2 separate regions of the Homo sapiens genome follow, and region 1 is linked to region 2. Evidence: fine-mapped expression QTL. A gene starts in region 2. The other region holds a variant in brackets. All regions are shown on one strand. Distances are from middle to middle. Region 1 holds the start of ZNF132 (zinc finger protein 132). Region 2 holds the start of ZNF446 (zinc finger protein 446).

Region 1 (5,369 bases), 39 kb before region 2:
TTCTACAGAGCTACACAAGAGAACTAAAAACATCCACACAAAAATGTGTACAGGACTGTTCATAGCAGAATTTTTTTAAAATTTGAGATGGGGTCTTGCTATGTTGCCCAGGTTGGTCTCAAACTCCTGGGCTCAAGTGATCCTCCTGCCTCAGCCTCCTGAGTAGACGGATTATAGGCACCTTGCCCAGCTTCTATAGCAGCATTTTTTTCTAACACCTAAAAAATGGAAACAAGCCAAATGCTCATCCACTGGTAAATGGATAAACAAACTGTAGTCTTTCTATACACTGGAATATTTGGCTATAAAAAAGAATGAAATATTGATACATGCTACAACATTGATGAACTTCAAAAACATGCTAAGAGAAAGCCAGTCACAGAAAAATACATAGTATTCTATAAAATGTCTAGGAAACGTAAATCTATATAGTCAGAAAGTAGATTAGTGGTTGCCTAGGACCGGGGGGAAAGGGATAAGGGAACATGGGGAGTGACAGCTAATGGGACTGCTAATAGGACCTACAGTTTCTCTTTAGGTGATGAAAACATGCTAAAATTACATTATAGCAATGATTATACCATGTGAAAACATATAGAAATCACTAGACTGTGTACTTTAAAAGGTGAATTGTATGGTTTATCTTAATAAAGCTGTTTTTAAAAAATATCTCACTGGGGGCTGGGCGTGGTGGCTCACGCCTGTAATCCCAGCACTTTGGGAGGCTGAGGTGGGTGGATCACGAGGTCAGGAGATTGAGACCATCCTGGCTAACATGGTGAAACCCCCTCTCTACTGAAAATACAAAAAAAATTAGCTGGGTGTGGTGGCAGGCACCTGTAGTCCCAGCTACTTGGGAGGCTGAGGCAGGAGAATGGCGTGAACCTGGGAGGCAGAGCTTGCAGTAAGCTGAGATCACGCCACTGCACTCCAGCCTGGGGGACAGAGCAAGACTCCATCTCAAAAAAAAAAAAAAAAAAAAAAAAAGGAAAAAAAAATCTCATTGGGAAAGAGACAGAATCTGGGCATGACCTCATACTGGGTAACCCGACCAGGGATTGGTGAATCTCAGTGGGATCTGTTAGGCAGACTGGAGGTGTCTGATCCCCAACCTTTGCCTCCACAAGGCTCCTGGGCAACAGCTATTAGGAAAGCTCATGAGGCTGCTCAGAGAGAGACAGGGGAAGTACACACAGCAGAACCTCAGCACCCCAGCACCTACAACAGGAAACCCGAGAAGGAAGCAGTACCCATGATCTGGCTTTGGGATGAACAGAGCTTTCTATGGGGAAAAGACACAAGGCATAAGGTAGTCATCACCATGCTGAGACAGGGCATTACCAAGTGAGGTCACAAGCTCAAGGTTTTCCAGCATCACACTGTGGTACAGGTGCCTCTGGGCTGCATCAAGGAGCTCCCACTCCTCTTGGGAGAAGTATACAGCCACATCTTCAAAGGTTACCATGCTCTTCAATGTGGGGACAGCTGAGCCACAGGGCCAAGAAGTATGCTGACAAAGAAACAAACAATTGGTCAAATGGAAATATGCAGGACCTTGCTGTGTGACTCAGAATCCTGATACATCTACCACTAATATCTCTTTTTCTTATGATCCTCTCAGTCCACCCACTACTCACCCATCCACAGCTTATCTTCTTCCTCAGGGCCCCCACCTAACATGCCCTGGAATTAATGGTGCCCCTCTCTCCTAGTAGTCCCACTGGTCACTGTATCCAGGCCAACCCAACCTAGAGGAACAATAGGCAGGTGGGCAGATGGATGCTTCCTCCTCCCTCCTGCTGGCCAATTTTCCTTGTGTCTTCTGGCTCATACCTCCCAAACATAAGAAAATTTGGGCTTCCCTTTCTTAAGCCTCTTGTACCAGGGCCATGGGCCCAATGGTTCACATTCTCTCACCTTTACATGTCACTCCTCAGACCATACAGTTCTTATATTTCCAACCCCTCCCTGTTCACACTGTAGGCATTCTCCCTAGCATCTCACCATGCACATGGCATACCTGACAGATGCAACCGGGATCCATTCCTGGTCCAAGCCAGCTACAGAGCTCCAAAAACCCCACTGCAAGAGGCAGTCATAGCCCCTCAAGTCAATGCCTCCCCTGCCAGCCCTGTTCCTTCAACCATCAGCTGCCCAGAACCATAAGCAGATCTCAAATATCTCTTCCCTCTGATATCTTTGCCTTTGTATGTGTTGTCTCCTCCCCAGTCATAGCTGTCCTTGCTCTTCCTAACACTCAAATCCAAGATCCACTGGCCCCCACCTTGGCTTGGGGACTCAGCTTAGGCTGACCCTTTCTGATCTTGCCACTCCACCAGCCTGACAAAAACCCCAGGACCCTATTTAAGAAGAGATAACATGCCCTGACCACAAGAAGGATGGCCGCAACAATGTAGTGAGCTGTAGAGAAGCAAATCAACCTAAACCAAAGCCCAACTCTCATCCTACTTTTGCCGCTATGCTTCACTGTTGTCCTAGACCTACTCTCTGCTCAGGAGGCTCAGCCACTATCTTGAACCCAACCCACAACTGCATGCAGTGTCCACACACAAGCATCCATCCCTTGGATGTTTCCAGCCTAAACCCGACATAATTTCATAATCACATGTTTAGTGGTCTACTTGGCACCTCAATTTGGTAGTGTCTGGGACATCTCAAATACAACATGGCCAAAATCCAACTCTTTATCTTCCCCCTGAAATCTACT[C/A]CTCACACCAACTTCCACATCTGAAAGATCTAAGGTCAATTTTTTTTTTTTTTTTTTTGAGACAGAGTCTCGCTCTGTCACCCAGGTTGGAGTGCAGTGGCGCGATCTTGGCTCACTGCAAGCTCCGCCTCCCGGGTTCAAGCCATTCTCCTGCCTCAGCCTCCCGAGTAGCTGGGACTACAGGCACCCACCACCACGCCTGACTAATTTTTTGTATTTTTAGTAGAGATGGGGTTTCACCGTGTTAGCCAGGATGGTCTCAATCTCCTGACCTAGTGATCCACCTGCCTCGGCCTCCCAAAGTGCTGGGATTACAGGCGTGAGCCACCACGCCCGGCAATTTTTTTTTTTTTTTAAGACAGAGTCTCGCTCTGTCACTCAGGCTGGAGCGCAGTGGCACGATCTCAGCTCAATGCAACCTCCATCTCCCAGATTCAAACAGTTCTTCTGCCTCAGTTTCCCAAGTTGCTGGGATTACAGGTGCACACTACCATGTCCTGGCTAATTTTTCTGTATTTTTAGTAGAGGTGGGGTTTCGCCACGTTGGCCAGGCTGGTCTTGAACTCCTGACCTCAAGTGATCTGGCCGCCTTGGCCTCCCAAAGTGCTGGGATTACAAGTGTGAGCCACTGCACTCAGCCTTAGGTCAATCTTAACATTTCACTTTCTTTCACTGTCCCACATCAGGTAATCCATGGCCCAGTTTGGGCAGATTCAGAAGCCAACCATCTGTCCTACCTCCACGGGCACCCCTCTGTCCAGCTACCCAAAGCACACATCTGGACCACATCTGTCAGCTCCTCACTGGCCTTCCTGCTCCACCATCACCATCCCTCCAGTCTGCTGCCCACTAGGCATCCATAGGGCGTCTGTTAAGACTGGAGTCAGAGCACCTACTTCCTCTACTCCAAACCTTCCATGGCTCCCACCACCATCAGAATAGAGGTCCAGCTCCTCAGGCTGCCATTCCAGGCCTAACTATTGGTTTCCCTTCCCTGTTTCCACCAGACTAAATGGAGACCGGCAGTCCCCAGAATGCTTCCATTTCATCACCACTAAACAAGGTACACATGCTGGTCACTGTCCCTGGGACAGCCTTCCAGATCTCATTCCACAGGATTCCAGAAATGGGAATCCCTCGATATAACCCCTTGCCTGGATTCAGGATGGTAAGGGTAAGTGACTCCCAGGGCAGGGCCCAGGACCCACGTGTGAGGACAGGACACGATCAAGAGTCCCAGGACACCAACATCCCCTCTATCTGGGCTTCAGGATCCTGAGGGCCGGAATCCCAGCGGGTGAGGGCCTGGGGCACACTCCACTTACCTGCGCCGGGCCCATCAGCAACGCTGGCAACCCCATTAGAACCTGTGGGCTGGGCAGGGCCATAACAGGAGGCCCAGGGCTAGCCCTGCCGCTGGGCCGAACCCTCACACTTCCGCTGGGTGACGGTCGCACTCAGGACCTGTCTTCCCAAATGCAAAATGCGCGCAAGGCCTCTGGGCACCGCAGGGACGAAGGCTGGGTATGGAGACCCTGGAGACGCGTGGCGCTGGCTCCACTTTCGGGAACACCTTGGCTCATAAAAGCAGAGTAATTAGCCGGGCACTATGGTGCGTGTGAAGGCGCGGTGACGGTCCCTGCACCCACTCCCGTGCCCTGGTGTGGCTCCAGAGGCCTGCTGTAGCCCAACCCACCAGCAGCAAAATGAGGACCGCAATGGCGGCGCCGGAAGTCCCGCCTCTCAATGACAGCTCGGACTTGCCACTGGTCCGAGCTTTCATTGGCTCAAGGATCCCCGCCGTCTATGACGCTATTTCCCTATGCCCGTCACGCTACTGCTAGGTCGTTGCCAAGGTGATTGAGGAATGGCGTTTATTGCGTCGCTGCTCAGGCAACGCAAACTACATTATCCAGAAGGACCCTCGCGGTGCCTCAGGGCTGGCCATTGGCAGCCGAGGAGACAGGCACTTCCGGGCGGAGTGTAAGACGCTGGCCAATCACAGCCTGGCAGCGGGACTTCCGTCGTCGTCCTCGGACCATCACTTTGGCATTTCTCGATTTTGTCTGCTTCTGAAGGGACCGCGTTGTCAGGCGAGGGACGGAATCTTGGAGGCTCCCTGGGCCCATGGAAACAGGAGCGAGGAAGGCACGAGAGTCGGGGAAGTTCCGCCTTCTTGACATACAAGCGCCCCCACCGCGGCGAATATCGCCCCTGAGCCCAGTGTTCGCCCCCCACAACACCGCACCCCCCTTCCCCACCCTGTGCCTTAGATAAAGCCGGCCCAGTGGGACCCTCAGGTTGCACCGCGCGGAGGTGTCCGCGGCTCTCGGGAGTCGTCGCCCTTGGCGTTATGTTGGCTTTAGGGAGCGCGAGGCCGAGGCCAAGAAAAGCTACGCATTGGGAGGTCTTGACCCAGTGTGCGCCCGGCTGTAGGCATGGAACGTGCGCCAAAGGTCTCCTGGCACCCACTCCGCTGGACTCAGCACCATTGTCCTAAGTCTCCGATTGAGAAGTATCTGCCCCAGGTCCTCTGCGGGCCCCACTGAACAGTGTGGAGCGTTCACAGGTTGGGGGTCACCATTTCAGAATCCAGTTTGTTGAGACGTGGAGGGTACAGGAGGAGGGATCTGCATATGCG
Region 2 (5,369 bases):
GACAATAACCCTTCCCTGCCTGAAAGAGCACTTTTCTGGGGAGCCCATGGGAGTCAGGAGCAAAAGCATCTGTCAAACAAGTAGATACCCAGAGAGTCACGTGAAATCATTTCTATGCCTCTGACAGACGCTTCTTGAGCGAAGTTTCTGCCCTGAGCCCGCCTGACCCCTTAGGCTGGGCTCAGTACCCTACCTTGTCTTCCCACCAGCCGCCTCCCTCCATCAAGTTCCTTTCCACGTCTGCTTGTGCCCCTGTTGTCCCTCAGTTTGTCCACCCTCCTCCAATCTTCCCCTCCCCAAACCCATGACTGATCAGTGGCCCCCAACCTAGGCTCCCACCTCCATGCAGGTCTTGGCCCCTCGGCTGACCTCCCTCCAACCTCCCCCTCTGCTCTTAATTTTGAATAGGTAGTGACTGTAAAAGTATCCCTGGGCTTCTATGTCAAAAGGTCAGACTGAACACATGCATCTCACTGGGCTCAGAAATCCACTGAAACCACAGAGGGGAGTATTTAAAACACATAACCCACAAGTATGAGGATGGTGACAGAGGAGTCAGGAGCAATGGCATTCCTAAGCTAGAAGTGGGTGAGAGCTGTCACTAAGTTAGGGAAGGCAAAATACTACGTGGCGACTTGGCGAAGAGGAGAGAGTTCCCACCAGGCTGACTCCAGAACCGCAGAAGGCTGAGAACCAGCAGCCCAGAGACGGGAGACCTATATCAAAGCTGCCTGGGGAACAACTACTGAAGAAGCCCTTAACGCCCCAGTGCTCTCCCCACATGGTGGAGGGTGAAAGTTTTTGTTTTTTTTTCCTTCTGGGACTCTGCATAGTCCCAGAGAAAAGGCCTAAGCACCTCATCCCCAAAAACAACCTGAGGAGGCCGTTGGAAAGCTCCGAGTTGACAAGTCTCATCCACGCACATGCTCGGTGCTTCCAATCGGTGATCAAGACCACTGCTCTTCATCCAGAGCAGGCAGCAGGGATTCCCAGGTATCCAAAGAAACCAAAACAGGCGGTGTAATTTAGGACTGACTAAGTAATGGCTCGGCCACTTTTAAGTGTGGAAGCAAAACTGACCCCACAGATTTAGAAAACTGTAACACTGCTTATTGGGAGAAACTAGTGTCACCCTGGCTAGTTCTGCTCCCCAAATTCAAAGGTAAATAAACGGTTGAGCATGTCCGATCAGCCTGGAGGGAAACCTCCACCCCCGACTTTGTAGGACTGACATCTGAAGACGTCAGAGACTGCGGTCACAACCGTCGGTACCTCCTTAGGGCGCTTAACAGAGGTCAAAGATGGCCCTCGCACCCTCCTGGCGGGAGAAAGCCCAGGCTCAGGGTGGTCTTCTACACCACCGCCTCTCCCGGGTCCACTTGGAAGCGAGTCCCAGCGAACTACTCGACCTAGGAAACCACTGGGCCGCCACTTCCAGCCTCTTCGGAAGTCGAGGCAACGCTCCTGAACGTTGCCACGGGAACAGCTGGAGGCGGGCGGATATGCCCTAGCGTTATCTAGGGGCTGGCCCGGGGAATGGCGTGGGGGCGGCGGGGCCAAGCAAGCGCCACCTCTGATTGGGCAAAACCCCCTCCCCTCACCTGCCAATAGAAACCGGCCCACTGTACAGACGCGCAAGTTTATAACCCGGGAAGAGCTGCTCTCAGAGCGGAGGGAGACCATATAACCCTGGGACTCTGCCGTACCTCCTAGAGGAACAGAGCGCCTCTCAGGCGTCAGAGGCTGCTGCAAATGCGGGTCAGCGGGTCACGGTCGCGCCTGTCTTGCTGATGCTCATGGGAAATGTAGTTCAAAGGGCATGGGCGGTGCCTTCGGTGCAGGCGAGAGATTGGTCAGCGCGGCGTCGCCGGGGCAACACCCGGCTGAGGCGCCCCGCGTTGTGCGGCGCCACATCCGGGAAGCGGCCTCCAAGCAACCGCTCCGGGTTGAGGTGAGCGCAGGCTGCCAGAGTGGGCGCAGCCTTTCCACCCCGTGGGAGGGCTTGGGGTCGCCCTCTGGGGCCTGAACGGCTCCTGCTGTCGGCGCCCTGGAGGGCCCGCCCACTTCCCGACAGGCCGCGCGCGTCACCTCAGCCTTCGCTCAGGCCTTTCCTACCCTCAACGCCGTTCCGGGGGGCCGGGCCTGGCAAGTCCTCTTGGAACGCCTCCCTCTTGCCTTCCCCTTTTGGGGACAGATCCCGAAGTTCGAGCATCCCTCGGATAGGCCGGGTGTCAGGCCTGGTCTCTCAGGCCCGTCCAGGTGGGCGTCTTTCACTGCAGACCTTCAGGGCCGGGATGCTGTGGCCATCCCTCGACTCCGCGCAACGTGGAGCTTTGGCCCCGTTTTTCTTGGCCTTTGCTTTTCGTTTTCACATGCACGGGCCCCGGCAGTGTGAGTCGCCCACGGCTCGCTGTGGTCAGCGAGCACGATGTCCACGTGCCCCCTCCCCAGAGCCATTCCTAAAGGAGGTCCCACCCAGTCAACCTCCCCGAGATTGTGGAGGGCGACTCGTCCCCGTACATTACAGCCTGGCCCCACCTTCTACCCGCCCACCCTGGTCCACTCTCCTCGCACCTCGGCTAGACACTGTGGCTCCTCAGCCTGGCGCTGGAACTCTGTGATGACTGTCTTTCTCCACCTCTTTAGCGTCATCTCCCAGCAGTCCCCTGCTGGACCCAACTGTTTGCAATTTCCAGGAAGCTCCCTGGACACCTTGCGTCCAAGCATTTGTCCCTGAGGCTTCCTCCTGCTCTCATTTGCCATCATTGTTTGGGTCCTGTGACCCTCCTCCTTCCATGAAGCTTTCTTGGCCTTATCTCTTCTGGCCTCAGAGTACACTTGGTCCTGGTCTCAGCCCCCTGGGCTGAGCCTGGTGTCTGCCTTCCCCTGGCCAGATTCTCTTGGCTGACATTCCGACCCTTCCTTTTCTGTAGGCCCATCTTGACGATTCCAAGACCACCCCCTTGAGCAAGAATGCCATCCCCTCTGGGTCCCCCATGCCTGCCCGTCATGGACCCAGAGACCACCCTTGAGGAGCCTGAGACTGCCCGCCTCCGCTTCCGAGGGTTCTGCTACCAGGAGGTGGCAGGTCCCCGAGAAGCCCTGGCCCGGCTGCGTGAGCTGTGTTGCCAGTGGCTGCAGCCTGAGGCACACTCCAAGGAGCAGATGCTGGAGATGCTGGTGCTGGAGCAGTTCCTGGGCACACTGCCTCCCGAGATCCAGGCCTGGGTGCGCGGTCAGCGGCCAGGCAGTCCTGAGGAGGCCGCTGCCCTAGTCGAAGGACTGCAGCATGACCCTGGGCAACTGTTGGGCTGGGTGAGTGTGGCTGGCATCAGCTTCTTGGAGGGATAGACCCTGGCTAGAGCCATTGTGACCTACCTCTTCTCCTCAGATCACAGCCCATGTCCTGAAGCAGGAGGTGCTCCCTGCAGCCCAGAAGACAGAGGAACCACTTGGGAGCCCCCACCCCTCAGGGACAGTGGAGTCCCCTGGGGAAGGTCCCCAGGACACCAGAATAGAGGGGTCTGTCCAGCTCAGCTGCAGTGTGAAGGAGGAGCCCAATGTCGATGGACAGGAAGTGGGTGAGGTTGGGGTCCCACCAGAGATGAGGGACTCCTGGAGGAAGTGTGGACATTCCTGGCTAGGGTGGGAGTCCCAGGAGAGGTGTGTCAAGGCTGGGACTCCTGAAGTGAATGTGGATGTCCCTGTCTGGGATGGGGACCTGGGAGGCAGGAGCCAAGGGCTGGCTACGTGCCATGTCACACAGCAGAGGAGCTCCTCATCTGCCATGGCTCATGTGGGCAGCCCCTGACACCACCCTTCCATCTGCCCCACTTTTCAGCACCCTCCAGCCCTCCACTTGCAGCACAGTCCCCTGAGGGGAACCATGGACACCAAGAACCAGCCTCCACATCCTTCCACCCACCCAGGATTCAGGTGAGCAGCCCCAAGTGGGAAGTATAGGCCCCAGGTGTGAGAAGGGACTGTCCCCATGGCTGCCCTCTGCCTGGTGGTTTTCCAGGCTCCTTGACTAGTGGCTCTTTGCTTCCCAGAAGTGGAGTCTGTAAAAGCTGTACCCCTCCACAGGACCTGGGGCAGAGGGACAGACTGGTGATCTATTATTGAAAAGGATTTGGGGCTGGACATGGTGGCTTACACCTGTAATCCTAGCACTTTGGGAGGCTGAGGTGAGCGGATCACCTGAGGTCAGGAGCTCGAGACCAGCCTGACCAATGTGGTGAAACCCTGTATCTACTAAAGATACAAAAATTAGCCAGAAGTGGTGGCAGGCGCCTGTAATCCCAGCTACTAGGGAGGGTGAGGCAGGACAATTGCTTGAACCCAGGAGGCAGAGGATGCAGTGAGCCGAGATTGTGCCACTGCGCTCCAGCCTGGTCAACAAGAGCAAAATTGTGTGTCAAAAACAAAAAAAAAAAAAAGGATTTGGGCCTCAAGCCATGGAAACCCAGTTTAGAGTGGCTGGAACTAGTGGGCTTGGCTTCCTCACCTCCAGAGAAGTCAGCTGGGAGGTTTGCTGCTCCCAGAGGTCCTGAGCCAGACCTGGGGATTTGAACTTTTGTGTGTAGCTGGGGAGGGGAGAAGATGACCAGCTGTGGCAGGACTCCCCCCACACCTGAGACCAGATGGAGACACTCTCCCTGGGAAATGCCCGAAGTCCCTTCTCTCCTAGGGGTTTCTTCAGAGGCCACCTGTTAGGCCTGGAAGCTCAGCTTGAGGCCTCTTCTACCTGGATCGCTTGGTTCCCAAGTGTGGGTAGCAAGGTCTTTTCCTCTCCCGGCTCCTCTAACAACTCCACTGGGGAGCTTCAGCAGCAACATTGCTGGTTGAGATGTGTTTCGAGGCTAAGAAGTCCTTCCAGGCTCCCTCCACAGCCCCATGGCACAGTCAGAAAGTGAGGCAGGGTGGGTAGGCTGCACTTCCCAGTGTCCTCACCTCCAGCCAGCACCATCTCTAGCTGTGGCTCCTCACAGCTGCCGCCTTCCTGCCCCTGGACTTGCCACAGCTTGTCCCTCAGGATTATTTTTCCCAACCCAGCAAAGCCCCAGATGATGGGACTCAGGCAGCAAGGAGGGCTGACCCCCAATCAGGGAGTTCATTCCTCGATAAAGTCACTCAGGTCCCTGTGATGCTGCCAAACCTGCCCTCTGAGCAGGATGGTGTAGTAGAGGGGGATGAGTGCTGGCAGCAGCACTGGTCAGGTGATCTGAAGGAGAACCTCTGCACTTAACAAACACACACCTTGAGATCATTCTCAGCAGGAGGGGCAGATGAGGCGTAGGTAACCTGCTGACTCTTCCGGGTAATAGGTAAGAATGTGAACCAGACAGGGCAGGGAAGGGGTGGAAAGA

Evidence for each region. PIP is the estimated chance that this variant, and not a neighbour inherited with it, causes the effect.
Region 1: its variant is fine-mapped to the expression of ZNF446 in whole blood (TOPMed, PIP above 0.99).

Annotation. Positions count from the first base shown.
Region 1 is chr19:58,435,706-58,441,074 of GRCh38, forward strand. It overlaps ZNF132 (zinc finger protein 132), which reads right to left and starts at 4,448. Exons shown (of 3, transcript NM_003433.4): 1 at 4,054-4,448; 2 at 1,342-1,510. The coding sequence starts at 4,116. It overlaps ZNF132-DT (ZNF132 divergent transcript), which reads left to right and starts at 4,743. Exons shown (of 1, transcript NR_186311.1): 1 at 4,743-5,369. It also overlaps a transcript of ZNF324B not described here. RefSeq lists enhancers at 4,114-4,624, 4,857-4,986, 5,136-5,369. The variant C/A (reference allele first, on the strand shown) is at 2,729.
Region 2 is chr19:58,474,246-58,479,614 of GRCh38, forward strand. It overlaps ZNF446 (zinc finger protein 446), which reads left to right and starts at 2,107. Exons shown (of 7, transcript NM_017908.4): 1 at 2,107-2,259; 2 at 2,934-3,315; 3 at 3,392-3,581; 4 at 3,842-3,936. The coding sequence starts at 2,974. It overlaps ZNF324 (zinc finger protein 324), which reads left to right. Exons shown (of 4, transcript NM_014347.3): 4 at 1-1,191. RefSeq lists enhancers at 1,196-1,285, 1,346-1,405, 1,646-1,895, 1,717-2,011, 2,166-2,365.